Regions from separate parts of the Homo sapiens genome. Here regions 2 and 3 are each linked to region 1. The links come from fine-mapping of genetic effects on gene expression. A gene starts in region 1. Each other region holds a variant in brackets. All regions are shown on one strand. Distances are from middle to middle. Region 1 holds the start of MYO15B (myosin XVB). Region 2 holds the start of SMIM5 (small integral membrane protein 5). Region 3 overlaps MYO15B (myosin XVB).

What was found.
Region 2: its variant is fine-mapped to the expression of MYO15B in whole blood (TOPMed, PIP above 0.99).
Region 3: its variant is fine-mapped to the expression of MYO15B in whole blood (INTERVAL, PIP 0.97).

What each region holds. Positions count from the first base shown.
Region 1 is chr17:75,582,589-75,592,797 of GRCh38, reverse strand. It overlaps MYO15B (myosin XVB), which reads right to left and starts at 4,998. Exons shown (of 64, transcript NM_001395058.1): 1 at 2,555-4,998; 2 at 2,109-2,172; 3 at 1,782-1,891; 4 at 1,552-1,626; 5 at 1,086-1,197; 6 at 718-821; 7 at 497-560; 8 at 257-370; 9 at 1-119. The coding sequence starts at 4,740. RefSeq lists silencers at 3,127-3,726, 3,767-3,896 and enhancers at 3,517-4,348, 4,777-4,846, 4,349-5,182.
Region 2 is chr17:75,626,089-75,634,088 of GRCh38, reverse strand. MYO15B (myosin XVB) reads right to left here. Exons shown (of 64, transcript NM_001395058.1): 63 at 7,861-8,000; 64 at 7,240-7,682. The coding sequence ends at 7,605. RECQL5 (RecQ like helicase 5) reads left to right here. Exons shown (of 20, transcript NM_004259.7): 9 at 2,421-2,639; 10 at 2,840-2,939; 11 at 3,079-3,115; 12 at 3,252-3,310; 13 at 3,397-3,470; 14 at 3,812-3,905; 15 at 4,247-4,381; 16 at 4,614-5,155; 17 at 5,327-5,417; 18 at 5,647-5,871; 19 at 6,397-6,466; 20 at 6,567-7,235. The coding sequence ends at 6,667. SMIM5 (small integral membrane protein 5) reads right to left here and starts at 655. Exons shown (of 3, transcript NM_001162995.3): 1 at 1-655. RefSeq lists enhancers at 223-902, 903-1,583. The variant C/T (reference allele first, on the strand shown) is at 4,739.
Region 3 is chr17:75,614,522-75,622,521 of GRCh38, reverse strand. It overlaps MYO15B (myosin XVB), which reads right to left. Exons shown (of 64, transcript NM_001395058.1): 31 at 7,839-7,939; 32 at 7,673-7,749; 33 at 7,480-7,561; 34 at 7,184-7,282; 35 at 6,922-7,019; 36 at 6,638-6,829; 37 at 6,375-6,453; 38 at 6,076-6,210; 39 at 5,737-5,998; 40 at 5,561-5,648; 41 at 5,218-5,437; 42 at 4,600-4,712; 43 at 4,337-4,396; 44 at 3,304-3,379; 9 more. Among named protein-coding and RNA genes, the nearest start is that of SMIM5, 15 kb to the left of the region's middle. The variant C/T (reference allele first, on the strand shown) is at 4,002.

The sequences.
Region 1 (10,209 bases):
GCCAGCACAGCCCAGACGGCATTCAACTCCTCTGGGCACAAGCCGAGCCCCTGCAGTGCCTTCAGCAGCCCCTCAAAGTCCTGGGCATCCTCCTTGCCTTGCAGCCTGCAGGCCTGGCCCTGCAGAGCACAGCAGGGGTGAGGGAGCGGGGCCTGCCACCCCATAGCCTCCCTCTACTCCGGCTACTCCTCAGACCTCCGGGCCGAGATCCTCCTCTGGGCAGGCCTCCCCGCCGCACCACAAGGGCTCCCCCGACCTGGTTGAGGTAGTAGTAAGTCTCCGGTCCCTGCAGGGAGAGCCGCTCCCGCTCTATGGAGTCCAGCCCTGCCAGCAGCTTGTAAAAAACATGGAAGCTCCGCTCAGCCTGGGCCTTGGGGACAGGACTGGCTTAGGGGCTCAGTGCCCTAGGGGCTTAGAGGCCACACCCCGACAGTGACACCCTCTGCCCTTCCTACTCTGGGAACTGGGCAGGGGTGGATAGAAGGGCTGCCTTTACCTGAAACACCACCCTGGAGGTCTCAAGTAGATAATGAGACACAGAGGCTCCCACGATGACCCCTCTGTGGGCACAGAAGATGGGTGTGAGTGCCCAGGATGCAGAACACCCAGGGGCCCCGTGCAGAAGAAGCCCTACCAGGGTCTGGACCCCAGGGAAGCAGCCCAAGGACCCAGGAAGGGTAAGTGATTGTAGGTGCCCCCTGCAACCCTGCCACTCACTGCTGTAGGTAGAGGCAGAAGACCTGGCCGAAGCGGCTGGCATTGGCATTGAGGATGGTCTTGGCATGGCCAAAGCTGCTGAGTATAGGCAGCATATCCTCCACCTGTACAGGGAGGGGTGTTCAAGCATCCCTGGGCAGCAGTAGCCCCCACCAGCAGGCATCCCAGCTAGGGGCAGGTCCAGGGAGGCGTCAGTCCCATCAGAAAGGGCAGTGCCTGCAGCTGACCCCAGGAGACGCCAGAGGCCTGGAGACCACCCCTCTCCTGGCTGAAAGGAGAAAGATAGTCCCTTGGACATGGTCAGCTGTCCCCTGGAGGAAGACAGACGGCCAGCTCAACCCATGAGGTACCTCCAGCCTGGCCCTCACCTGACACTCTCGGTTCCCCGTCTGATCCTGCTCCAGGCTGCTTAGGAACTGCATGATCTTTTTGGCGGCTTCCGTCTTCCCTGAGCCACTGTGCCCACTGCAGTGGGAGGAGCTAAGGATGTGTTGGTTGGTAGGGTCTCCAGGGAGGGGCACATAGGACCACCCCAGTGAACCCAGGAAGTGGGATGTGCCACCCAGAAGTGACAGCTAGCCTGGAGAGACCCCCATAAATGTGGAAAGATAGTCCCAGGGCATGGAGAGACCCGACAGAAAAGAAAAAGTCCCCAAGATGCCACATTCCAGGGGCTCATGTGATGATTTCAGCCAGGAGCTCGGCCCTGAGGAGTCCAGAACTGTAGCCCAGCAGTGGAGCATACCAGTGGCTTCCAGTGAAGACCTCAGGCCCCGCCCCATCAACCCTCAGTGTGGCCCATGGGTTCAGCCACCCAGGAAGGCCACCACTCACCACAGGAGGATGCATGGGTCCTGCCCAGTATTCTGAGCCAGGTCATAGGCTGATGCCACGATGGCAAAGATGTGTCTGAGGGAGATGAGAAGGTTGCCAGACATGGGGACCTGGGACCCTCCGAGGTGTAGCAGAGGTGCTCACAGGCCCCGGGACCTCAGTCAAGGGGACATGCAGGGACTGGGCTGCCTGGGAGGTGAGCAGAGGGTCAGTGGGGCAGAGTCACATACGGAGTGGTGCTGAGGGCCTTCCTGGGGTGGTAGCTTGCCTGGACCTCAGGTGAAAAAAGAGGCAAGGACCGGTGGGGGTTCAGAACAAGCAAGACAGGCCCCCCAAAGGTCTGGGGAGGAAAACAAGCTCTCATCAGAGTGTGGAGGGAGCAGGGGGAATGCAAACAGAGCCCAGCCCCTCAGTCCCACTCTGCAGGGCTCCAGAGAGGGTTCACCGCCTAGCCCGGGGAGGAAGAGGAAGGAGAATCTCCAGGGGTGCCAGGGAGCCCTCTGTCCCCAGAGAAAAGGGGATCCCCGCCCACTGTCCGTCCCCGTGGCTCCCCATACATAGATACGGCCCAGGTGAAATCTCTTCTTGAGGCACAGCAGCACAGAGCTGTCACACACCAGCCTGTAGGGACAACAGGGTGGAGGCATGACAAGTTGTGGCTGCAGGAGGTTGTGGGTTAGTTCTGCCACCCACTGCAGGGACCCTGGCAAGTCATTCAACTTCCCAGAGCCTGATCCATAAAATGGGGGCTGAGCTGTCAAGTAATGCGCAGGCTACAAGGAGGGCTGGCTCTGACCCAGAAGGAAGCTTTGTACTAATTAGAAAGGCGGTCCTGGGGACGTAGCACCTGTTGCCCCTTACCTGCCCCTTCCTGCCAGGAGGGTTCAAGCCCATCCTTCTAAGGATTCAATAAGGGTCTACACGCAATTCATAAAGATGAGGGCAGGGTGGATATGAGGAGCTGTGAGCCGGGGATGGCAGCTTTGGCACCGCGCCCGCTAACCGCAACCGCGCCAGGTCCTCCATGTCTTCCAGGCCGTCTCCGAGGCTCCTGCCCTTGGCACCGGGGAAGGGTGGCGCCTCCAGGCCCGGCCGGAGGCTCAGCTCCAGGTCCCTCTCCAGCACCGCCTCGTCCTCATCCTCGGGTTCCCACAGCTCCCTCAGGGACCCACGGAGGCCCGGGTCTCCCTCCTGCTGCAGGCGGGTCTCCAAGGAGAGTCGGGGTAGCAGCACGGCGGCGCCAAGCCTAGGACCCTCGTGGGGGCCTGAGCCCTGCGCCCAGCGCACCGGGGGCTCGTCATTGAGGGTCTCCAACTCCGCCTCACTGCTGGAGCCGCTCTCGTCGAGGGAAGGCCCGTCGGGTGCAGTCGGGGCAAGGAGGGAGCCGCGACGAAGCCCGGACACCCCTTCCCCACTCGTCCTGCACCCCTCACTGTGCCCCCCCACCCCTGCACGAGGCCAACCTCGGCCTTCCCCCGTGGGGGCATCTGCGGACGCTTCTTCAGAGCTGCGGCTGCTCGACGCCCGCCCTGCCCTGTGGATCCTGGGGAACACGACCGCGAACTTGGGATCTGGAGTCTCGTCCTCCTGATCAAAAGGGTCGCCGGGGACTGGGCTTGTCGGGACCTGCGGGGAGCGGCCACCAGGGGAAGCCCTCGGCATACCCCCCAGCCCTGCTAAGCCAGCCAGGCGCAACGCTAGACGGTGCCGCAGCCCGGGCTCACGGCCCCACCCCTCGTACCCTCTCTGGTGGTCCCGGCCCTCGTCACCTCTCTCGTGACCCCGCCCCTCGTCCGCTTTCCCGCAGCCCCGCCCCTCGTACCCTCGCTCGTGGCCCCGCCCTTCGTCCGCTTTCCCGCGGCCCCGACCCTCGTCCCCTCGCTCGTGGCCCCGCCCTTCATCCGCTTTCCCGCGGCCCCGCCCCTTGCTTCCTCTCCCATGACCCCGCCCCTCGTCCGGTTTCCGGCGGCCCCACCCCTCGCTCGCCCGTGGCCCGGTACCCTGCCCCTCGCCCTCTGGCGGCCGCCGCCGCAGCCGCAGCCGCCGCCGCAGCCAGCGCAGGAGGCCCAGGGCTCGCGCTACACTCAGGAGCCGCTCCTTGAGGCCAGCGCGGCGGGGGCCCACGGCCTGGGAAGCGGCGCCTGGCGGGGGCCTCGCGAGGAGCCTGCGGACCACCAGGAGGGCCGCCAGCGGGGCTGGGTCCTCCGGCCCCGCTCCTGCTGCGGCTCCCGCTTCGCCCTCGCCTGCCGCCGCTGGCACCTGCCCCACCGCCTTTCCGACCTGGTGGCGCGGAGCCCGGGCCGTCGAGGCCTGCATTGTTTCTGGCTCGGCGCCCCGCTGCGCCCGGTTGTCGCTCGCGTCCTTGGCCGGCCCAGTGTCCCGAGGAGCCCGCGAGCTGTCCTCGAAGGTCCTGGAGGCCATAGCTGCCCGAGAGCCCCGTCCAGGTCCGGTCCCCAGCGGACTCGAGTCGGAGTCCCCGCCGGAATGCTCGCTGGCTCCCAGGGGCCCCGTCCCCGACGACCCTTCCCGGCCCCGGGTATCTGCGTGGGGCCAGTCGCTGTCCAGGCCGTCGCTGCTTGGCTCCAGCGCTGACTCCGGCCCGGTTTTTGTCCCTTCCGAGCCCATGTCCGTAGGCTCCGGCGTGGGCCGCAGCTCCCGGGCTGTGCCGCGCTGGCTGCCGCTCTCCTGGGCCTCGCGGGTTTCGCTGTCCGGACAGGAGCTGCCTCCGTCCCCACCCGACGTGTCCCCATTGAGGCTCCTGGGCGTCCGGCGGCCCCGCCGAGCCGAGGGCCCCTTATCTTTCCGCTTCCTCCTACGGCGGCCGCCCAGCTCTTCTCCTCCGGAGAGGCTTCCCTCCTCCAGGCGCCCCCCGCGGCCGCCCCTGGGCCCGCGTCCCTGACGCTGCGCGTTGCTTTGCCTCTCCTGGGCTTTCGGGGACAGCCCAGCCCCTGGGCGTCTGCAGCCGCCGTTCCCCTCTGCAGTGGGCTTCCTGCGGCCACCAGGGGTTCCCTGGCCCCCGGCGGTGGCAGGCTCGGCCGCCGGTTTCGCCCTGTCCGCCTGCCCGCGGTCGGAACGGCGTTCCCGGCTGGGCGCGCCATCCGCGCTGGCCGACCCCGACTCCTGCTCCCCTGAGGCCGGCCTCCCGGGCCTCTCCAGGCGCTGGGGCGCTTTGCGCTGGTTCCTGCCCATGGCTGGCCCAAAGGAGACGGGCTTCCCGACGCCCAGGTCCTTTCCCCTCCCCGGGGATTTGGCCTCCCGCGGTGACCTTCTGTGCAGTGCACCACCCGGCTCTGCTCTCGCAGGGGCTACAGGCTCTACTCCCCGAGGTGCCCGCCTTACAGGACCATCAATAATGCAGAAGGCGGCGGGTCCTGACCCCCTCGGCCAACAATGGAATAGAGGCGCCCAGGAAACAGGAGACGCTACAGCTGCGGACAGGGCAACAGTGCCGCCGGGAGGCGCTGCCAGCCAGGCCAGCCTCGCACCGCGCCAGACTGAGGGGGTCCATGCTCCACTCCCACCTCAGTGCTTGCCCAGCAAGGAAGGGCCCAGAGAACCTGTCTGGACTTCTTCCTTCTGAGGGTTCCAAGGGACTGGGGCCAGGCCCACCCTGGCACACGGCAGCACTCCATGAGTCGCTAGGGTTTTTGTTCTTTTCAATTGTGGAATAAATACAATTTACCGAAAAGTACATAAAACATAAATGTACATCTTGAACTGGTGTAAAACATGCCTGTCTACCTCCTTGGAGTTGTGGAACAGAACCACACCCCATACATTCCTGATTGCCCCAATGTGTGTGTTTTTAAAATATCTATTTTTAAAACAGGTAATACATTCACATAATTCAAACATCCAAACATTACAAGATAAAAGTCTCCCATTCCTGACCCTCAGCCTATGTACTCAGTGTTCCCCTGAGGTTACCCATTTCTGTATTTCCTTGCAAAATTTTCCAGGTTGGCCGGGCGCGGTGGCTCACGCCTGTAATCCCAGCACTCTGGGAGGCCAAGGAGGGCGGATCACGAGGTCAGGAGATGGAGACCATCCTGGCTAACATGGTGAAACCCCCGTCTCTACTAAAAAATACGATAAATTAGCCGGTCGTGGTGGGGGGCGCCTGTAGTCCCAGCTACTCGGGAGGCTGAGGCAAGAGAATGGCATGAACCCAGGAGGCAGGAGAGAATGGCATGAACCCAGGAGGCAGAGCTTGCAGTGAGCTGAGATCACACCACTGCACTCCAGCCTGGGTGACAGCATTTTGTTTGTCTCAAAAACAAAGAAACAACAACAAAAACTTTCCATGCAGAGAAAAGCAAATATTATATTTTTCCCCTTTAGCACAAGTGGTAGCTTATGTAGCTCCGGGGTCTCCACTTTGCCTTTTTCACTTAACAATGTAATCTGGTGATTTCATAATAATACCATAAAAAGCCAGCCTGCCTTCCTCCCTTCTCTCCTCCCTCTCTTCCTTGCAAATAAATGCACCATGGTTGAACCAATTCCTTATTGATGGGTTTCTACATCCAAAGTGGATCCTGGCCAAGTGAGGTGGCTCATGCCTGTAATCCCAGCATTTTGGGAGGCCGAAGTGGGTGGATCACCTGATGTCAGGAGTTCGAGATCTGCCTGGCCAACATGGTGAAACCCCATCTCTACTAAAAATACAAAAATTACCTAGGTGTGGTGGCACATGCCTGTAACCCCAGCTACTCGGGAGGCTGAGGCAAGAGAATCGCTTGAACCCAGGAGGCGGAGATTGCAGTGAGCTGAGATTGTTCCACCCTACTCCAGCCTAGGTGACAGAGCAAGACTCACTCTCTTAAAAAAAAAAAAAAAAAAAAAAAGGTGGATCCTTCCTTCCTCTCATCTTTTGCTTAAGTTACAGCCAATACTGGAATACAATTTCACCAGCATCTGCATAGAATCAACTATAAGTAGAATCGCTGCACCATAGGGCACTTGCATTTGTAATTTTGAGATTTCCAAATTTTTCTCCACAAAGGTTGTGCCGATTTATATTGCCACCAATAATGGGAGACCACCATTCTTTTCCAACACTCTGAAACATGACAAAATTTCAGTGCCACTTTGAGGAAATAAGATCTAGTGTTCAATAGATCAGTGGGATGACTATAGATAACATTAATTGATTGTACATTTCCAAATAGCTAGAAGAGAATTGTTGGGAGAAAAGCTGAGTGTTGGGAGAGAAGCTCAGGCAGGACTTGCATGTCTGCTAGACTTGCTGGCTCCTTGCTTCTAGCACTCCCATTATCTCAAGCAGCTGTATGTTTCTCGTTCACTTGATACACTATTTCCTTTCAACCTCCACATCCTCACCACCTCTTTGAGCACCAATAAATAGCCTGGGCTCCCAGTGCCCAGGGGCCTTCACAGCCTCCACACTCGCGATGGTCCCCTGGTCCCACTTTCTCTCTCAAACTGTCTTTTTCTCATTCCTTTGACTCTGCCGGACTTCATCACCCCCACTACCTGGTGTTGGATCTGATTACCACAACAGAGAATGATTCAAATGCTCCTAGTATTAGAAAAAGAAAAGGTGACAGATACCCCAATTACCCTGATTTGATTATATCAAATTATCACATGTACCCCCAAAATAAGTACATCTAATATGTATCAAAAAAATTTTTTTTAAATAAAATAAAAAAAAAAACTCGGTGCCTCTTTAAGTTCATTTATCTGTGAAAATAAGCAGCTCTCCTGCTCTTAGAGCCACTTTACTTCCTTTTCTGAGACCACTCTCTTCTCATCCTTCCCCATCTCTCTATTTATTGGGTGTGAGAAGGTCTGTTTCTTTTTTGAGACGGAGTCTCGCTCTGTTGCCCAGGCTGGAGTGCAGTGGCGCGATCTCGGCTCACTGCAACCTCTGCCTTCTGGATTCAAGGGATCCTCCCACCTCAGCCTGTAGCTGGGATTACAGGCGTGCACCACCATGCCCTACTAGTTTTGTATGTTTAGTAGAGATGGGGTTTCACCATGTTGCCCAGGCTGGTCTTGAACGCCTGGCCTCAAGTGATCGGCCGCCCTTGGCCTCCCAAAGTGGTGGGATTACAGGTGTGAGCCACCTCACCCGGTCAGGAGTTTCTTGATTATTAGACTGTTAAACCCAGGCAGGATTTGTGAGGCTACTTGAGGGCCCTGGGGCAAGGCAGCTGTGCTGGGGCAGGCTCAGAGGACCCACGATGGAGTCAGATGGGTCGTCCAGGTGGGGCCTGTGACGTGCCCCACAGGGACTCCCATGCCCCCACTGACCGGTTTGCTGTGGCCTTTCCTCACCAGGAGCAGCACCCAGCACAGAGCAGGGGAGGTGACATTCCAGACTGCAGCACTTTCCTTCGGAATGCCCTTGTCAGCCCACGCCTGCCTTGTGCCCATCTCTCTGCACACCTCCTAGAACCAGCCTTAGACATGGTTGCAGCTGTTGCCAGCACCCACATTGCCCGAGAGGGCTGTTCACAGCCCAGAGGCCTGGTTTGAGCAACAAGTTGACAGTGATTTGGCCTTTGCAGCCTGCATTCTCAAGGAGGCAGCCTTCTGGAGAGGGAGGCAGCTGTTAGAAGGACTACGAGCTCACAGGTAACCGCAGCCTGTAGATGTCTGCAAGCTGTACTCCCCTATCGCCAGTTGTGCTGGGGCAAAGGATGATTATAGTCTGAGCACTCGTTTCTCCTGCAAGAAGCAGAACGTGGGTGAGGTATTCACCCGGTGGATTAGTACACAGCATTGAGAACTGTCTACAGCTGTCAGCAACAATGTGGATAATCTTGCAAGCATAATGGTGAGTGAAGGAAGCCAGGCATGAAAGAGCATCCACTGCGTTCTATTTATATAAAGTACAAAAACAGGCAAAGTGATCTACAGAGTGGTCCCTCCAGGGTCAGTAGTGACTCAAAGGAGACACAAGGGAAGCTCTGAGATATGGGTGATGCGTTTGTTCAGTTTGTGGGGATTTGCTGAGTCGTTCTCCTATGACTTGTGCACTGTTGGTTTGTATCTTTTTTTTTTTTTTTGAGACGGAGTCTTGCTCTGTTGCCTAGGCTGGAGTGCAGTGGTGCGATCTCGGCTCACTGCAACCTCCACCTCCTGGGTTCAAGTGATTCTCCTACCTCAGCCTCCTGAGCAGCTGGGACTACAGGTGCACACCACCACTCCCGGCTAATTTTTGCATTTTTAGTAGAGACGGAGTTTCACCATATAGGCCAGGCTGGTCTCAAACTCCTGACCTCGTGATCCACCCACCTCGGCCTCCCAAAGTGCTGGGACTACAGGCATGAGCTACCGCACCCAGCCTGGTTTGTATCTTATAGCACAGTGGGCTGGGCATGGTGGCTCACAAATGTAATCTCAGCACTTTGAGAGGCTGAGGATTGCTTGATCCCGGAGTTCCAGACCATCCAGAGCAACACAGCAAGACCCCATCTCTACAAAAAATTTTCAAAAATTAGCTGGAGGCCAGGTGCAGTGGCTCATGTCTGTAATCCCAGCTCTTGGGAGACTGAGGTGGGCAGATCACTTGAGGTCAGGAGTTCGAGACCAGCCTGGCCAACATGGTGAAACCGTCTCTACTAAAAATACAAAAATTAGCTGGGTGTGGTGGCACATGCCTGTAATCTCAGCTAGTCAGGAGGCTGAGGCAGGAGAATCGCTTAAACCTGGGAGGCAGAGGTTGCAGTGAGCAGAGATTGCGCCACTGCACTCCAGCCTGAGTGACAGAATGAGACTCCGTCTCAAAAAAAAAAAAAAAATATTAGCTGAGCATGGTGGCACACGCCTGTAGTCCCAACTACTTGGGAGGCTGAGGTGGGAGTATTGCTTAAGTCTGGGAGATGGAGGCTGCAGAGAGCAGTGATTGTGCTACTGCACTCCAGCCTGGGCAACAGAGCAAGACCCTGTCTCAAAAACCAAAACCAAAACCACAAAAAAAATTAAAACAGCATAGAGAAAGAGCTCAGTTTTTTTTTTTTTTTTTAGACGGAGTCTTATTCTGTCACTCAGCTACTCCCGAGTAGCTGGGACTACAAGCGCATGCCACCGTGCCCAGCTAATTTTTTGTATCTTTAGTAGAGATGGGGTTTCACCACGTTAGCCAGGATGGTCTTGCCCTCCTGACCTCATGATCCGCCCGTCTCGGCCTCCCAAAGTGCTGGGATTACAGGTATGAGCCCCAATACCCGGCCAGAGAGCTCAGTTTTGCCCTGGACAAACAATAACGATAATAGTAGCAGATAGCTAGCACCTCAGGGCTTCTTATGCTCAAGGCATGCCATAAGCCCTTTTTTTTTTTTTCTGAGACGGAATCTCGCTCTGTCGCACAGGCCGGAGTCCAGTGGTGCGATCTCAGCTCACTGCAAGCTCCGCCTTTTGGGTTCACGCCATTCTCCTGCCTCAGCCTCCTGAGTAGCTGGGACTACAGGCGCCCACCAATACACCCGGCTAATTTTTTGTATTTTTAGTAGAGATGGGGTTTCACCGTGTTAGCCAGGATCTAAGCACTTTTCTGTGAATTTATTTAATCCTGAGAGCACTGTAAGAAGAAGGTGCTATGAGGATGTTCATTCTAGGGATGATACCACGGAGGCACACACCTAGGGACTGTCAGAGCGGGGATGCCAGCTCAAGCAGTCTGGCTCC
Region 2 (8,000 bases), 42 kb before region 1:
TCCTCTGCTGACAGCCAGCTGCTGTCTCTGCCTGGCTTTTTTGTTGTTGGTCGTCCTGGAGATCCAAGTGTCAAATTACCGTCGCGAGGGGGAGCCCGAGGAAGCCCTGCTTGGGAACTTGTCCTCCAACTTCATGTCCCGGTGCCTCACCTCTGCCCTGAGAGCGCTGCTCAGGGACAAGACAAGCTCCCTCTCTCCTCCTCCTTCCTCCTCCTCTCCCTCTCCCCGACTCCCACGCCGTGGGCTGGGCCTGGGTTGGGAGCTGAAGAAAGAAGTCGGCTCTCTGCCTTCCTGGCCAGGAGGACCCTGGGGAGGCTCCACCTGAGCCTGTGGAGGGGAGTCCTGCAGCGCTCTCAGGTCTGGGGCACCCACCCTGCCCTCAGGAAGGCCACCCCTTCTGTCCCTCTGGCCACTCCCTGGCTGGTCCCTCCCTCTGGCCTCTCTCAGGAACAACAGTAAACAGTGGGGAGCTGGTGGCCCTCTCAAGCTGAGCAGGAGGCTTTGCAACCAGTCCCTGGGGAGGCCCTTGTGCCGCTCAGCATCTGAAGGCGTCTTGGGGGAGAACTTGGAATCCTGAGTGACCTGGGAGTGGCCTGCGCGCCCGGCAAGGCGCCTCATGTTCCTTGTGAGGTGAGGGCCTTCTGCTGGGGCTGTGACCGCACTCCTGGCCCAGCTGTCAGGGCAGGGCTCCAGAGTCCAGGGGCCGGGCCCTGTGACATTTGCCTGGTTGTGCCTCCCAGCAGGCTAGGCTGTGTGGAGAGAAACCGACCCCAGCCCCGCTGTCAATGGAGCTCTTTGAGTCCGAGCACAAAACCCCAGTGAGTCAGGGCCTGAGGAGGGCAGGGGGAGGAAGCCAGCCATGTGGTCACACCACTCGGATGCCAGAGCCTCCCAGAGGCTGGACAGGCGGCCGCTGTGCGGGCGCACGGACTCCTGGGGATGAACCATTTGTTGCATTTACTCATTGGAGCAGAGTGGGGGCAGGAGCGCCCTCTGGTGGCCGCCTCGGCTGTCCCAGCCCAGGTCAGGCTTCAGAGCTGCATTCACTCAGCTAAAAGAAAGTCAGCCAGGCCCTGCTTCCTTACCGGGGTGTTGCAATCAGCCTTGCATCCTTGAGCCTGCGCCTTGGGGTCGCAGCCCCTCAAAGGGCTTCTTGCAGCCGCAGCAGTGCTCACACTGGGAGGAGTTCTAGTTAGAGCAGTTAATGCCAGCTATTCTTGTCCCTGGGATGTGGCACCCCAGACAGCCCTGCCTGTGTTCCAGCATCTCCTCTTGGGCTTCCCTACCCTGTGCCACGTTCCTGGTGGCAGGAATGGCTGTTTATAAGGAGCCTGAGAGAGCTATGGCCCCTCTTGCGGCCTCTGCAGCTGCCCCAAGGGTCGACAGCCACCCCCATGCAGAGGGAACAGAGATGCGACAGAGCCTCGTGGGCCAGCCAGAGGCTGCTCCCTGCTCCCAGCATGGGCAGAGGCCGCTCACCCCAGGAGGGCTGCAGCAGGGTTGAGACAGAGGAAGACGAGAGGAGGACTCCAGGCGAGGCTGCGTCTCCCTGGCTAAAGGCCCCACCTGTGACACCCTCACGGGTTGATGATGGGACATATTACTACACAGCCGTGCCTGCCTTAGCAATGCAAATACGTTTTGAGAAATTTAACTTGTCATTGTGCGGTCACAGAGTATACTTAGGGAAATCAAACAGCAATTCCAGGGAAGAGAAGGAAAAAAATATCAAGCGGCACAGCCTCCTACACACCCAGGCCATGCGCTACAGCTTGTTGCTCCTAGACCACAAACCTGTACATCACGTTACTGTCCTGAGTACCGTATGCAGTTGTAACACAGTGGTATTCACATATCTAAGCACACATAAGCATAGAAAAAGTACAGTAGAAATACAGTGTTAGAATCGTAGGGGACCACCATTGGCTGTGCAGTCATTCCATGGGGCATGACTGTACTGTAATGCACTTCAGACATCACCTCAGCCATCTTCGCTCAGTCCGTGAGGGCTGTGCCTTTCTGCACCATCTTACTGACGGGAATGCATGGGCTTTAGGAGGTGAAGTGTGTCACCCAAAAGACACCCTTCATGGCAGAGCCAGCATCTACATCCCATTGCCAGAGGACAGAGGGGAGGAGCAGAGGAGTAACTGGACAGAGTGGGGTTCACATCCTGCTTCCCGGGAGACCCCCATGTGTTACGTGACCTTGGGAAAGTTGGTTCACCTTATCGTCCTCATCTGTGTAGTGGGGAGAGCCAAACGATGCCTGGTGCAGCTTGGATGAGATGAGGGGTGTGGGGCTCCCGGCATGGTGCCGGACGCGGCAGTGCTCGCTCAGCTAGCGATTCAGGCTCGGGTGAACAGACGCTGGCCGACTGGGCTCTCCGCCCCTCACCTCTGCGGTGCTGCCTGCTCCAGGTGCCGCCATGCCGCCATTGCCAAGTACTTCGGGGATGCGCTGCCTGCCTGCGCCAAAGGCTGCGACCACTGCCAGAACCCCACGGCCGTGCGGAGGCGGCTGGAGGCCTTGGAGCGCAGCAGCAGCTGGAGCAAGACCTGCATCGGGCCCTCCCAGGGGAACGGCTTTGACCCCGAGCTGTATGAGGGAGGCCGCAAGGGCTACGGGGACTTCAGCAGGTAAGGGGCCGAGAAGCCAGGGCTCCAACCCGCTGGAATTGCCTGGCATTCCCTTGGCGCCAGGGCCAGACCAGAGGTGGCACGATGCCGCAATCCCCCCTTGAGCTGGTAGGACATCAGGGACATTGCCGTTCTAGCAGCAGCACACATGGGGAGGGCAGAGCCCAGGCCAGGGCCACTCACGCCTGGCCTGTCCCTAGGTATGACGAAGGTTCTGGAGGCAGCGGGGATGAAGGCAGAGATGAGGCCCACAAGCGGGAGTGGAACCTCTTCTATCAGAAGCAGATGCAGCTGCGCAAGGTGAGGGGAGGCACTCAGTGGCCTGTGTGGGGCCCCTGGTGGCCCCCTGCTCGCACCTCTCAGCCCCTTCTCTGGTGCTGGATGGGACTGTCCTGCGGCAGGGCAGGACGCCTCATGGGTCCTTCATGTTGTCCTCCAGGGCAAAGACCCCAAGATAGAAGAATTTGTACCCCCAGGTCAGTACAGAAATGTTCCTGGAGGCTTGTGGGCTCTTCCCGGGGCATGGAGGGAGGATTCTCATCCGGGCTGTGGGGGACCTCAGAGCGCAGAAGGTGGAGCGAAAGGACCAAGGACCACCCCCCCCCCCCACAGATGAGAACTGTCCCCTGAAAGAGGCTTCTAGCAGGAGGATCCCCAGGCTGACTGTGAAGGTAAGAGACGGGCAGCTCCTCAGCCACCCGCCGGGGCCCTCCCCCAGCCGCGAGGCCATGCGACCAGTCTCACTGTCCTGTGCCAGGCACGGGAGCACTGCCTGCGGCTTCTGGAGGAGGCGCTGAGCAGCAACCGCCAGTCAACACGTACCGCTGATGAGTGAGTTCCACGATCACTGGGCTGAGGAGCACTCCAAGCTCTCGTTCCCTTGGAGACTGCAGGACCCTGTCAACCCTGGCCTGTTTGGGCCACCTCTCCCCAGATTGTACCTCTCCTACTCCAGGGGACTGCCCCTACAACCCCACCAGGGCCAGGCATGGCTACAACTTAGGTGCTACCAGCAGCTGCTGAGGGACAGTAAGCCACAGGGTGCTCAGAGAGCCCTAATCAGAATCCCTGTGCCCAAGGCCTACCCCACCAGGCCTGGAGTCCCGCAAGAGCTCAGCAGGGAGAAGCCCAGGCCCACCTGATACCTTGTGCCTGTTACCTTGCACCCACAGAGCTGACCTCCGGGCCAAGGCCGTGGAGCTGGAACATGAGACATTCCGGAACGCCAAGGTGGCCAACCTCTACAAGGCCAGCGTGCTGAAGAAGGTGGGCCTGGTGCAGGCGGACCCAGGGTCGTTGCAGGGGCCCCTCCATACTCTGACGCAGAAGCTGTCTGCCAGCTCTCTGGGCTCAGGCAGCCCAGAACTCACCCTCCCCAGCCCACCCCAGAGACAGTTTATGGGGGTAGAGCTCCATTCTCCACTGGCTGGACATGTTTCTAGCCAACCCTGTGAGGATGGGAGGCCTAAAACTTGCCCAGTGGTCAGTTGCCTGTGGCCACTGGCCACAGAAACCCACTTGTAGTGCCTAGTAGAAAAGGAGGGCTAGGTGGGGCATGTCAGGAGGAGCTGGCGGGTGCCACAGCCTCCCTGCCTATCCCTGCCCAGGTGGCCGATATCCACAGAGCCTCCAAGGATGGGCAGCCCTATGACATGGGAGGCAGTGCCAAGAGCTGCAGTGCCCAAGCTGAGCCCCCGGAGCCCAATGAGTATGACATTCCACCAGCCTCCCATGTGTACTCGGTGAGCTGTGGCCCAGTGGCCTCCAGACCTGTGACCAGGAAAGGCTTCACTTCCCCTCTGCCCTCAGGGGTGCACCTCTTGCCAAGGCCTGGCTCCCCACCAGGGTCCTGCCTGCCTCTTCCCTCCCACACTCCTGAGAGCCCCGTCCCAATGTGAGTTACTGCTCCAGCCAGCGGTGCCCTCAAGGGGGCCTAGTGGGCTGAACCTCCTCTCCTCCTGCTCACATTTACAGCTCAAACCCAAGCGGGTGGGAGCTGGTTTCCCCAAAGGCTCCTGCCCGTTCCAGACGGCCACGGAACTGATGGAGACAACTCGGATCAGGGAGCAAGCCCCCCAGCCCGAGCGGGGAGGCGAGCA[C/T]GAGCCCCCGAGCCGGCCCTGTGGCCTCCTGGATGAGGATGGGAGTGAGCCCCTCCCTGGGCCCAGAGGGGAGGTCCCTGGAGGCAGCGCTCACTATGGGGGGCCCTCCCCTGAGAAGAAGGCAAAAAGTTCCTCTGGGGGCAGCTCCCTTGCCAAGGGCCGGGCTAGCAAGAAACAGCAGCTCCTAGCCACAGCGGCCCACAAGGATTCTCAGAGCATCGCCCGCTTCTTCTGCCGAAGGGTGGAAAGCCCAGCTCTGCTGGCATCAGCCCCAGAGGCAGAAGGTGCCTGCCCCTCCTGTGAGGGGGTTCAGGGACCCCCGATGGCCCCAGAGAAGTACACAGGGGAGGAAGATGGAGCCGGGGGACATTCGCCTGCCCCTCCCCAGACTGAGGAGTGCCTCAGGGAGAGGCCAAGGTAAGGGTACAGGTAGTCATAGAATCTTCTGGAACCTACACGGCAGCATCCCCTTTGCTCACTGGGCGTCTGAAGCTCAGAGCTCACCCCTGAGATGGGCTCTCCTAGGCCTCCTGGGATGAGGGAGCCACCAGGACCCAGTGCTGTGATGCCTGCTCTTCCCTCTACCAGCACCTGCCCGCCCAGAGACCAGGGCACCCCTGAAGTCCAGCCCACCCCTGCAAAGGACACATGGAAGGGCAAGCGGCCTCGATCCCAGCAGGTGCCGGCAGGGATGAGTCTGTTGGGGAGGAGAGAAGGGCTGTGGGCGAGGCCAGGAGCTGTTGTGCCCTGCTCAAGGGGTCAGGGAAAATCAGCTTTCTTTCCACACCTGGCAGCAGATGGGCTGGGCTGGAGAGAGGCAGCTGGTGCGGGGACCCAGTCTTCTGGAGGAGGGGAGCAGGCCAGTGGAAGGGAGCTCAGGAGTGACCCTCTGCTGTGGCCCTTCTCAGGAGAACCCAGAGAGCCAGCCTCAGAAGAGGCCACGCCCCTCAGCCAAGCCCTCCGTCGTAGCTGAGGTCAAGGGCAGCGTCTCGGCCAGCGAACAGGGCACCTTGAATCCCACGGCTCAAGACCCCTTCCAGCTCTCCGCTCCTGGCGTCTCCTTGAAGGAGGCTGCAAATGTTGTGGTCAAGTGCCTCACCCCTTTCTACAAGGAGGGCAAGTTTGCTTCCAAGGTAGGGGGAGTGAGTGGGCTCTGCCTTCTCCCATGCCTGGGGTATGTGGGTGTAGTGGGGGTGGGAGGCAGGGAGTTTGAGCCCCAGAACACAGTGGGCCTAGGGCCAGCCCCACGCCCGTCCTCCCTGGGGCCTGCCTTGCCGTTGGGTCATGGCCGTGGGTTGCTCTGGGGGTCAGGGCAGGGTCCTGCTCTCTTTTTTTTTTTTTTTTATCTCTGTCGCCCAGGCTGGAGTGCAGTGGTGCGATTTCAGCTCACTGCAACCTCCGCCTCCCGGGTTCACGCCATTCTCCTGCCTCAGCCTCCCGAGTAGCTGGGACTACAGGCACCCGCCACCACGCCTGGCTAATTTTTGGTATTTTTAGTAGAGTCAGGGTTTCACCGTGTTAGCCAGGATGGTCTCGATCTCCTGACCTCATGATCCGCCCGCCTCGGCCTCCCAAAGTGCTGGGATTACAGGCGTGAGCCACTGCGCCCGGCCACCAAGGGTCCTGCTCTCTGCTTCTCTTCTCCCTCTCCCTTCCAGGAGTTGTTTAAAGGCTTTGCCCGCCACCTCTCACACTTGCTGACTCAGAAGACCTCTCCTGGAAGGAGCGGTGAGCGCTGGCATTGCCAGGGCCAGGAGGCACTTGGGAGGGTGGTCTACAGGGAGGAGGCTAACGCTCACCTCCTCATGCCCCCACCCTGAATCTGTAGTGAAAGAAGAGGCCCAGAACCTCATCAGGCACTTCTTCCATGGCCGGGCCCGGTGCGAGAGCGAAGCTGACTGGCATGGCCTGTGTGGCCCCCAGAGATGACCAACTGCTGGCTGGGCAGGGCCCGCGTCCTCCCCCAGATTCTAGCATGGGTCATCCTGGGCCTCACCTGCTGATGCCAGGGCCATCGTCTTTTCTCAGTCCTTCTCCTTTCCAACCATACTTGGCTTTGGGGATGACCCCAGACACCCCCTGAATCCAGGTCAGAGGTCAGCCCACCTTTCTTTCTGCTTGCAAAGCCTATAGACCCTTCTCAGAGCGGTCCTCATGGCTGGGTTTTCTGGGACACATGTCGAGGACAGAAGGTGGAGGGTGGTGGAGCTGCTGCTGGAAGAAGGGGAAGGAAGAGTGGCCCCTCCCCGAGTTCTAAGTCAGGATGAGGCCCACCTGTCCAAGGTATCGGAACCTACCCAGGGGACCCTCAGATCCTCCACCCACTCCCCCATCCATTACGATGCCAGCTTCCAGCCTTGCCCAGGTCAGAGCTGTGGCAGAGGAGAGGCAGCCAGGCCCTGTTCCTGCTCAGCTCCTGCTCAGGAAGGCCAGGCCTGACAGATGTTTGGGAGAGGAATAAAGTTGTGTTGTTGTGGGGCATGCAGGCGTGCACACAGCCCTTTTCTCCAGGGAGTTTTATTTCCTCAGCAGCTGTTTCTCCCATGCCTGGGCTTGTGCTAATGTGGGGCCTGGGCGGAGCCTGGGGTCGGGTGGGCATCTCCCTCAGACTGGGCAACCTCAGGTGCCCCAGCCGAGTTCCTGCAGCCCGCTTTGGCCCCAGGCCGTCCTGGAGAGGGTCTGGCTGTTTTCTTTGCCTGCTGGTGACGTGATAGCAGCCCCTGCCTCATGGCCTGCATGTGGGCCGGCTGGGCTGTGCTGAGGCAGGTTCTAGAACAGTGATCTGATAGCATCCAAGGCAGACCATGTGGGTGAGACTTGGGCCGGGGGAGGCCTCATCCTCTTCTCTCCCCGGCCTGCACTCCTCTCAGTTGATGCTGGGCCACTCAGTGCAAGAGGCACTGCTGTCTATCAGGAAGACAGTGGTGTATAGCAGCTCCTGGGCCTGCCCAGAGAAAGGCCTGTTACAAGAGGGCTCCCCAGCCAGCCCCTCGCCTCTGCCCCGGCCCACAGCACTCCGGAGCAGTGGGCATCGGCCTGGGCCTGGGCTCCCACTGCACGCCATGCTGGGGCAAGGCCCTCACATCCACCTTCGCAAGGTGGCCAGAGGCCTGGCCACTCACCTGTGGCAGCTCAAACCAGATGGTCTGGGGGTTGTCAGCTGAGCCATAGTTGACTTCCAGGCCAGGGGGCCCCTTCTCCTCCAGAGGGCTTAGCAGGTGGAGCCGCTGCAGGCTCTTCAGGGCAATGCGGCAGTACAGGC
Region 3 (8,000 bases), 31 kb before region 1:
TGGACCCACCATCCGCTCCCCATCCTCATCCTCCGTTCTCCCTGCAGCTCACTAGGCTCAGCCACGCTGGTCCCGGTGCGTGATGGTGCCGAGGCTTCCCCCCACATCTGAACTGTTGCCTGCCCTTCTCTGTCACCCCGTGCTCACTCCTTCCCTCCCTGTAGGAAGGCTTCTGCCACAAAGCCTTCTCCACTGCAGCAGCCCCTTCCCTGCATTCTTACTCTCCAGTGACCTCTCACTCCCAGACACATAAGTTATCTCATTGTAAGCACTGCAGAGACTTAGCCTGTTGGCTTCACAGCCACACCCCCCTGCACGCAATGGGTGCTCAGTAAATACTTTGGAATGATTTGAAGGACAGTGACCAAGAGAAGGGGATCTCCTTCAGGCCCAGACAGGAGGACAGGCACAGGCGCTGGGGGTCGCACAGCCCAGGCTTACCTTCAGCAGTTCATAGAGCAGATCCATCTCATCCTTGCCCCGGGGCTTGGACTGGTCACCCATAAACCGCATCAGGGCTGCAGGCACGATAAGAAACAGGGCACATAGCTGGGGCTGTGCTGGGGCTGGCCCCGGCTCATGCTGTTGCTGTGCAGGGCCTTCACCTGCCATCTGATGCCTCACTCTCAAAATGCATAGATGCCAGCCAGGGCAGCTGGTTGCAGCTCGACTCATGGGGAAACTGAGGCTCCTGGGTATCCAAGGCCCCACACAGCACATAGCATCCTCTGGACCCATGGACTGCCTTCCAACCCCAGACTCCACACAACCCACAACCCTTGAGTGGGAGTAGAAGCGGGTGAGGGCCCTGGGGTCCAGGAACCACCAGTGAGCTTCCCGGAGTTGGCAGACTGGGACAGAGCCAGGCAGAGCTCAAGGAGATAAGGGGACCAGACACCCAGGTTCATGGCACTGCAGACATGGGGACCCAGGATGCCTGTGGCCACTCACCCAGGAAGCTGGCTACAGCCAGCTTGCTCACATCATCACTGAGGCTGAGGAGCGACTCCTGGATGGGAGCCTGTGGCCAAAGAGAGGAGGCCATGGGTCTGGGGGGCCGTGGGGGTCAGAGGGCAGATCTACGGGCCAGACCCCTCCCTGCCTCTCTCCCACCTTGGTGTACTGCACCAGGCTGTCCGTGTCCTTTCCTGCGGCACCTCCATCAGTCTGGCCCAGCCTGTGGGGGGCAGAGGGAGACAGCCCAGCTTGTTTGGCCCTCCTGCCTTCATCCCAGCCAGCCAGGCAGGGAGAGTGCTAAGAGCACAGCCCAGTGGCTCTGAGCAGGGTGCTCTCTCTCAGGAAGACTGAGGACAGACAGGCACAGGGGTTGGCCCAGTGCACTCACAAGGCCTGGGACCTCCGGAAGTAACGCCGGGCGAATTCCTGCATGGTGTAGCTGTGGGAGTCGGGCAGAAAGGCATAGGCCACAGAGGACAGGCTGGTGGCCTCCGAGTCGTCACTGTGTGCCTGGCTCCAAGGGTGGGCAGGGCGCTGGGATCACAAGAAACCTGGTGCCACCTGAGTGTCCAGTGCCCTGTCCCAGGGGTCCTGCCCCAGCCCCATCCCTCCCCAGCCAGACACCAAAGGAGCAAGACCAGAAGCCAGGAAAGTGAAGAGCTGTTTATTAAGCATCTGCTGGGGCAGCCTTGAACTAAGTACCACGTGGGACACAAGAGCAGCATCCAGCCCAGCCCCTGCCTGCAAGGAGTGCACAGTCTTGCTGGAGAGACAAGGCGAGCCATCAGGAGCGGGCAGAGGGGCAGCCACAGGAGACGGACAGCAGGGTGGTCCCACCGCATGGCAGCCTCGGGAGTGGTCAAACCCCTTTCCTTCCTCAGTCTCAGGCAGGCCTTGCCTCTGCTTGTCCCTCTCCCATCTTCCTCACCTCTGAGGCCCTGTCCCACCGAGCCAGCCCTGGTTCCCCGTTGGACAGCTGACCCTTGTGCCAGCCACTCCTCTGCTCCTTGGAGAAGGAAAAGTCGGGAGCGGCAGCCGGCTGCACTATGTCGGCAGGAAAGAGTCCGGAACGGCCCCCGGCAGAGCCAAACTGCCAGCCTGGAAGGCACCCAGGGATGTGGCTCACCCACTGGACCCTCTGCCCCCGGGCAGCCTCTGCCAAGTGGATGCCCTCCCTGTGTGAGCCCCTGCCGGCCTCTGGCGATACCTGGCTCCAGGGTGGCCACCGGCAGCAGCTTGATGAGGTCCCCACGGTGGAAGCTGAGGAGGCTGCAGTTGTCAGTGATGTAGCTGCGCAGGGCGATGACATAGCCGGAGTCCTGTGGGCAAGCAGGCGAGGGCCTGGAGCAGCAAGTCTGCCTGTGCCTCCCTGTCCTGCCTGCCCACCTGCTCCCCCTGCTGGCCTGCCCCTCCACCTAGCACCCCAGACTTCCAGGGATTTGGCCCAAACTCCCAGCCCCTGCCCCCACAGGGAAGACGGACAGGGAGATGCAGCATCGGTGAGGGCTGTCTGCCCGGCCTCTCAACCCGTGCCCCACACTTACCTTCTTAAGCTCATTCAGGAATAGCTCAACCAGCGCCTCGATGGCCCTTGCCCGGGCTGTGTGCAGCACCAGCTGCTCGCTCTTCAGTGACAGCTCCAGGGTGGAGCCGCCCCGGCACTCCACACCCAGCACCTCCGCAAAGCTGCGCAGGGATCGGGCATGAACTGAGGTCACCTTGCCACCTGCCCCCACCTCTAGCCCAGGGTCGTGGGCTAGCGCACCTGTATGAGCAGAGAATCTTCAGCTGGTCGGGGCGGAGGCCGGGGCCTTGGGTCACCTTGAGCAGTCGCAGCCCACGGTGGGACACGGCTAACAGCTGCACGTCGCTGCCACTCTCGCCCTACAGGAAGGTGGTGGGTCTCGGGCAGTCTCCTGGGTCCTGCTACTGCCCAAGATGCCCTGGAGCTGCCCAGGGCCAGTGGCTGGGCTTTGTCCTTCCCCTGGCGTCTGCTCCCCGGCTCTCCTGCTTGTGGTCTGTGCCCATGCACCCCAGGATCCAGGCTGGGGGCCTGGCATCCCTACTCCCTACCCCAGCGCCACTGACCGAGACAGGAAAGAAGCGGGAGAAGTAATTGGCCCAGTTGTCCCGAGCGGCCACCACGATGCGCTTCTTGACGCTGTCTTCGGTGGTGGTGAGAGAATCCAGGTCCACCTCCAAGCCTCCTGTGGGCAGGAAGGACCCAGGCTGCCCTCTGCTCACACAGAGGGGGCTCTAGAGTTTGCTCCCATGCTGCTCCCTCCTTCAGGGCAGGCGCGGCCCCCAGCACTCAAGCTCCCAACTCCATGGTCCCTGGACCCATACCCAGCAGGTCTTTCATTTTCCGCCGCTCATTCTGGGAAATCCGGATACAGGACTCGGAGAAGGTGTCCCGTAGGATCTGGGGGCAGAGCGAGGTGGTCACCACCAGGTCCTGAGACAGAGCCCACCCCCAGAGCAGCCATCCACATGCATGAAGGAAAACCTGAGGAGGCCGATGGAGGGCGCCCTGGCCCCCATGGCCTGTGTGCTCAGCAGAGGGCCTAGGTGGGGCAGGGAGGGATGGAGGGCTTGGGCCACCTCCATTCACACGTCTCACCTGTCCCCTCCCCTGCAACTGCCAGCCCTCCCTTTTCACTCACTGCCCAGAGACCCCGTGGTAACTGCCCTTGGATCAGCCCAGATACAAGATTGTTCGGGGCAGGGGGCAGGTGCTACTGCAGAATTAGGGGGAACAGAGGCTCACTCCTGGGAGCGTTCAGAGGTGGCAAAGTGACAACCATTTATTAAGTACCTACTGTGTGCTAGAGCCTGTGTTGTGCACTGTACGCACTTTGCTTTTAAACTTTATCTATAAAACTAGATGAATAATGGTCCCTACTTCTTGTTGTTGTTGAGACACAGTCTCGCTCTGTCACCCAGGCGGGAGTGCAGTGGCACAATCTCGGCTCACTACAACCTCTGCCTCCCGGGTTCAAGCAATTCTCCTGCCTCAGCCTCCCAAGTAGCTGGGGTTACAGGTG[C/T]GTGCCACCACGCCTGATTTTTGTATTTTTAATAGACATGGAGTTTCACCATGTTGGCCAGACTGGTCTCGAACTCCTGACCTCATGATCCACCTGCCTTGGCCTCCCAAAGTGCTGGGATTACAGGCATGAGCCACCGCACCTGGCCATGGTCCCTACTTCTCAGGAATGTTGTGAAGGTTCAATGAAGGCAGGTCTGGGCACACAGAAGTGCCCCCCAGTGCTGGCTGCCAACATGCCCTACGTGGTGTTAACCTGGCCCAGCCATTAGACAAAGGGCACGAAGGATGCTGTCTCTGCAGATGTCTCAGGCTGGCAGGTGGGCCAGCTCTCACCTGCTCACAGAGGAGCCTCAGGTAGTAGGGATGGCTGAAGTTCTCCCGTGGGTAGAACACCTGGAGGAGGGCACAGAAGGGCAAAGATCGGTGGGTCTGGTGCCTCTTCCCAGCAAGCCTCTGCCCTCCCAGGCCTGGAAAATCAGCCTTGAGATGGTGGGCTGTGGGGAGGGGATGCTGGGGTCCCAGGCTGGGATGCACAAAGCCTGCCGCCTCCCTGCCAGCCCAAAGAGGCCAGGCCAAGGCCCCACCCTCATGCCCACCTCCTTGCGTAGGAACAACTTCCAGGGCGTGCCGGTGTAGGAGAAGCACACGCTGCCAGAGGGCGCGAGTAGCTGGGTGGAGACCCCCTGGTCCTCCACGGGCTGTGTCAAGCCTGGCAGAGAGGAGGGGGTGAGGAGCCTCAGTGAGGGGCTGCAGAGCCAGAGTGATGGGGGCACGGGAGGGAAGACCTTCATCCCCACGAGCCTTCCAAGGGCCCGGCTCTCCCAACCTCCAGCTGCCTTACTCCTTCCATGGCACCATCTCCTGCCTCCATTTTGGGCCCTAAACTTTCCCTGGCGTCCGTGAGGCTCGTGGGTCTTCTATGACCATGTCAGCCAGGGCCACTAACTTCCTCACAGAGCTGTCGGGTATGTGTCAGGGACAACACCCTGTGTGTGACAGCCTCTCGATGACAGCCCCAAAGATGCCCAGGCCCTGCCCTGGGTGGGAACGCGGAAGCTGGGACTCCCCAGCTACGTATGGCTCCAAAGTCCAGAAGCCCGAACAGCTGGCCTCAGCCACGCAGAAATGCCTTCAGCCCTGGGCACCGAGAGTCTGTGCGAACCCTGCCTCTGCCCCAGTGAAGCCCACGGCGCAGGAGAAATGTGGTTCCTTACAACGACGCTCTGCTGAAAGGGTCCCTGGGTCCTCGGGCAGAGGCAGTGGTGGCGCTGGTGGAGGTGGGGGTGTGTGGGCAATAGGCAGCTTCTGGCCAAACAGGTCCAGAAGGGGCCCCTGCTTTTCCTTGATGGAGCTAGAGGGCCCAAGCTGTAGCGGGGCCTTGGGTCGAGGAGCCACAGCTGGCGGGGGGCCCTTTCCTGGGCTGGGGGACAGCATCTGGGGGGATACGGAGAAAGTACACGGGCTGAGTCACAGCACAAGGCCAAGTTCGCCCCAGAGAGCCTTGAGCTCCCCAGTGCAGCAGCACACACTCTGGGGGAGACAGGCTGGGGTGCTCACCGGCGGGGACGAGTGGGCACCGTTGATACCCAGCTTGGCCAGAGCCTCGTCCTTGGGGTCGATTTTCCTCAGGAAAGCTTTGGGAGGCCTCGTGGGAGAAGCAAGAGGTCACTAAGTTCATAGGGTGATTCCCCGAGGAGCGGGACAGCCCTGGCCACCTCCCCGTGGGGGCCCACCTGGATGGCTGCACGGGCACAGGCACGGGGCCCGGGCGGCTCTGGTACATGCGGATGATGTTGCCAATTTCCCTGCTGGGTTGTGGCCGCTTGGGCTTGGAGTCTGAGCTGCGCACCACAGTCCCCCTGCCTTGGGCTGGCCCTTGGCCATGGCCCTTGGCCGCTGTCTCCTTGGCTGGCTCAGCCTCAGCCTCTTTTGGAGCTTTGGCCCCACCTTGCTTCAATGGCTTCTTCACGATGGGGGGAGGAGGAGGGGACGGCACTGACCAGGAAACAGGAAAGACTGTTAACCGCGTGCAGAGCCACCGGAGCCCCAGGCCCTGCCCAGCTCCCCACAACCTGCTCTTGTTTCCACTTCTTGCTCCTCCTGCTCCTCCTCCTCCTCCTCCTCCTCCTCCTCCTCCTGCGCTTCCCCCTGGGGGATGTGGACCTTGGCCGGGGGCTTCATCGTCCTCACTGTGATCTGTGGCTGCCCTGCAAGTGTCCAGATGGCCTTCAAAGTTACCCATACTGGCCCAGCTGGGCTCCTGGATGGGCCGCACCAACTCCGGGGAGCAGAGCACACCCCACCCTCCCTGGCCCGGGCCAGGGGCACTGGCCATGTTTCTGCACGGTCCTGCCACCCCAAGTGCCCTCACCCATCCTCTGGAAATAGTTCCGTTTCTGCTGGAAGCTCTTGGGCTGATAGGGCCTGTCTTCAGCCTCCTCGGAGGTCTCCTGGCAGAAGCAGAAATGAGTGGCAGCTCAGCCAGCCTGGGTGCCACACTCGCCACACCCCTCGGGTCCCCAGTCCTGGGCCAGCAGCCTCTTCCCTGTGTCTGCCTACTCACCCTGCCCATGTCCCCTGCCCCTGCAGTCCCCACCCTCACATCCCTTCCTGAGAATATGGTCACCTCCTCACCCTCAGGCAGCCACCCTCTGATCCCAGGTCACGCTGTGGCTTCTCCGGGGGTGTGGGGGGCTTCCTGGGCTTGGAGGTGACGGCTGAGGGTGAGGCCTGGGACGCAGCCTCGGAGGCCCGAGCCTGCTGCTGCCGCTGCTGCATCTGCTGCTCCAGGGACAGGGACATGGCCTGGGCTGTCATCTGCTGGGCCTGAAGCAGGAGGAGCAGCCAGTTCAGACCCTCATCCCCGAGCCACAGACCTCTCCTCCACCAGGTGGCCCCAGGGCCCTGCCAGCGCTCACCAGGATTAGCGCCTGCTGCTGGATAAAGTTCTGCTGCTGGACGGCCAGCTGCCCTGCATCCAGGCTGGGAAGCGGTGGCTGCGGCGGCACCACCATGGCTGTGAGGGCGGCAGGCGGCCAGAGTGGTGGGCACCATGGCCAGCCTTGAAGCTCGCTGCCCACTGTGCACTCGGGACTCCTAGCAGGACCCTCCCTCCTCCAGTCCCAGAGCTGGTGGCTGCTCTCCTGAGAAGGGACTCTGGTGCCCCCAGCCCAGACTTACCTGGCATGGCAGGGACTGTGCCCATTGCTGGCATCATGGGCATGGGTGCAGGGACCATGCCTGGCTGGTATGCAGGCATCTGAATCATTCCTGGGTACACTGAGGGAACACGCCCTCCCTGTCAGTCCCTGCCTGGGCCCACATGCCACCTCCCTCCAGCCCCAGGCACAGAGAAGAGCATCGGGCACCGGGGTGCTGGCCAGGGCATCGATCGCCACTGCCAGAGGGGTCCCAGGCCATGCCTGCCATGCTGCCGGGCCCGGAGGCCCTGGGTGAGGAATCAGCCCCTCACTCACCCATGGGGTAGCCCTGCTGTGTGGGCCCAATGGCGCCCCCTCCCTTCATGCGGCTGCTCAGAGCCCAGCTTTGTTCCAGATCCTAAAGGGACAATGGTCACAGGTCAGAGTGAGAGCCCTGAGAAAAATGGAAGGGGCAGCAGAGGCCCCGGGGGGTTGGGGCAGGGGCATTTGGGGGCTGTGCCCGACTCACGCTGAGGCCGGAGGATATCACTGGCTGGAAGATCTGGTCCAGGAAGCCGTCCAGGCTCCCTGACCTCTGGACCTCCCCTGTGGGGCAGGGAGAGGGTTGGAGCCATGGCCCGGGGCGTGGGGCTTCCCATGCTCTGCCAACCTCCATGTGCCCACTCCAGCCTTACCTGTGTGGTCCCTGCTGGGCAGCGTTGGGGCTGGACCTGGAGGGGGTCCTGGGGGCAGTGAGGGGGCCTGAATGCCAGGGGCAAGGGGAATGGCCTCGGCTCTGCAGGAAACGGGATCCAGCTAAGGGGGTGGCCAAGGCTGAGGGTCACCCAGGCTGGGGC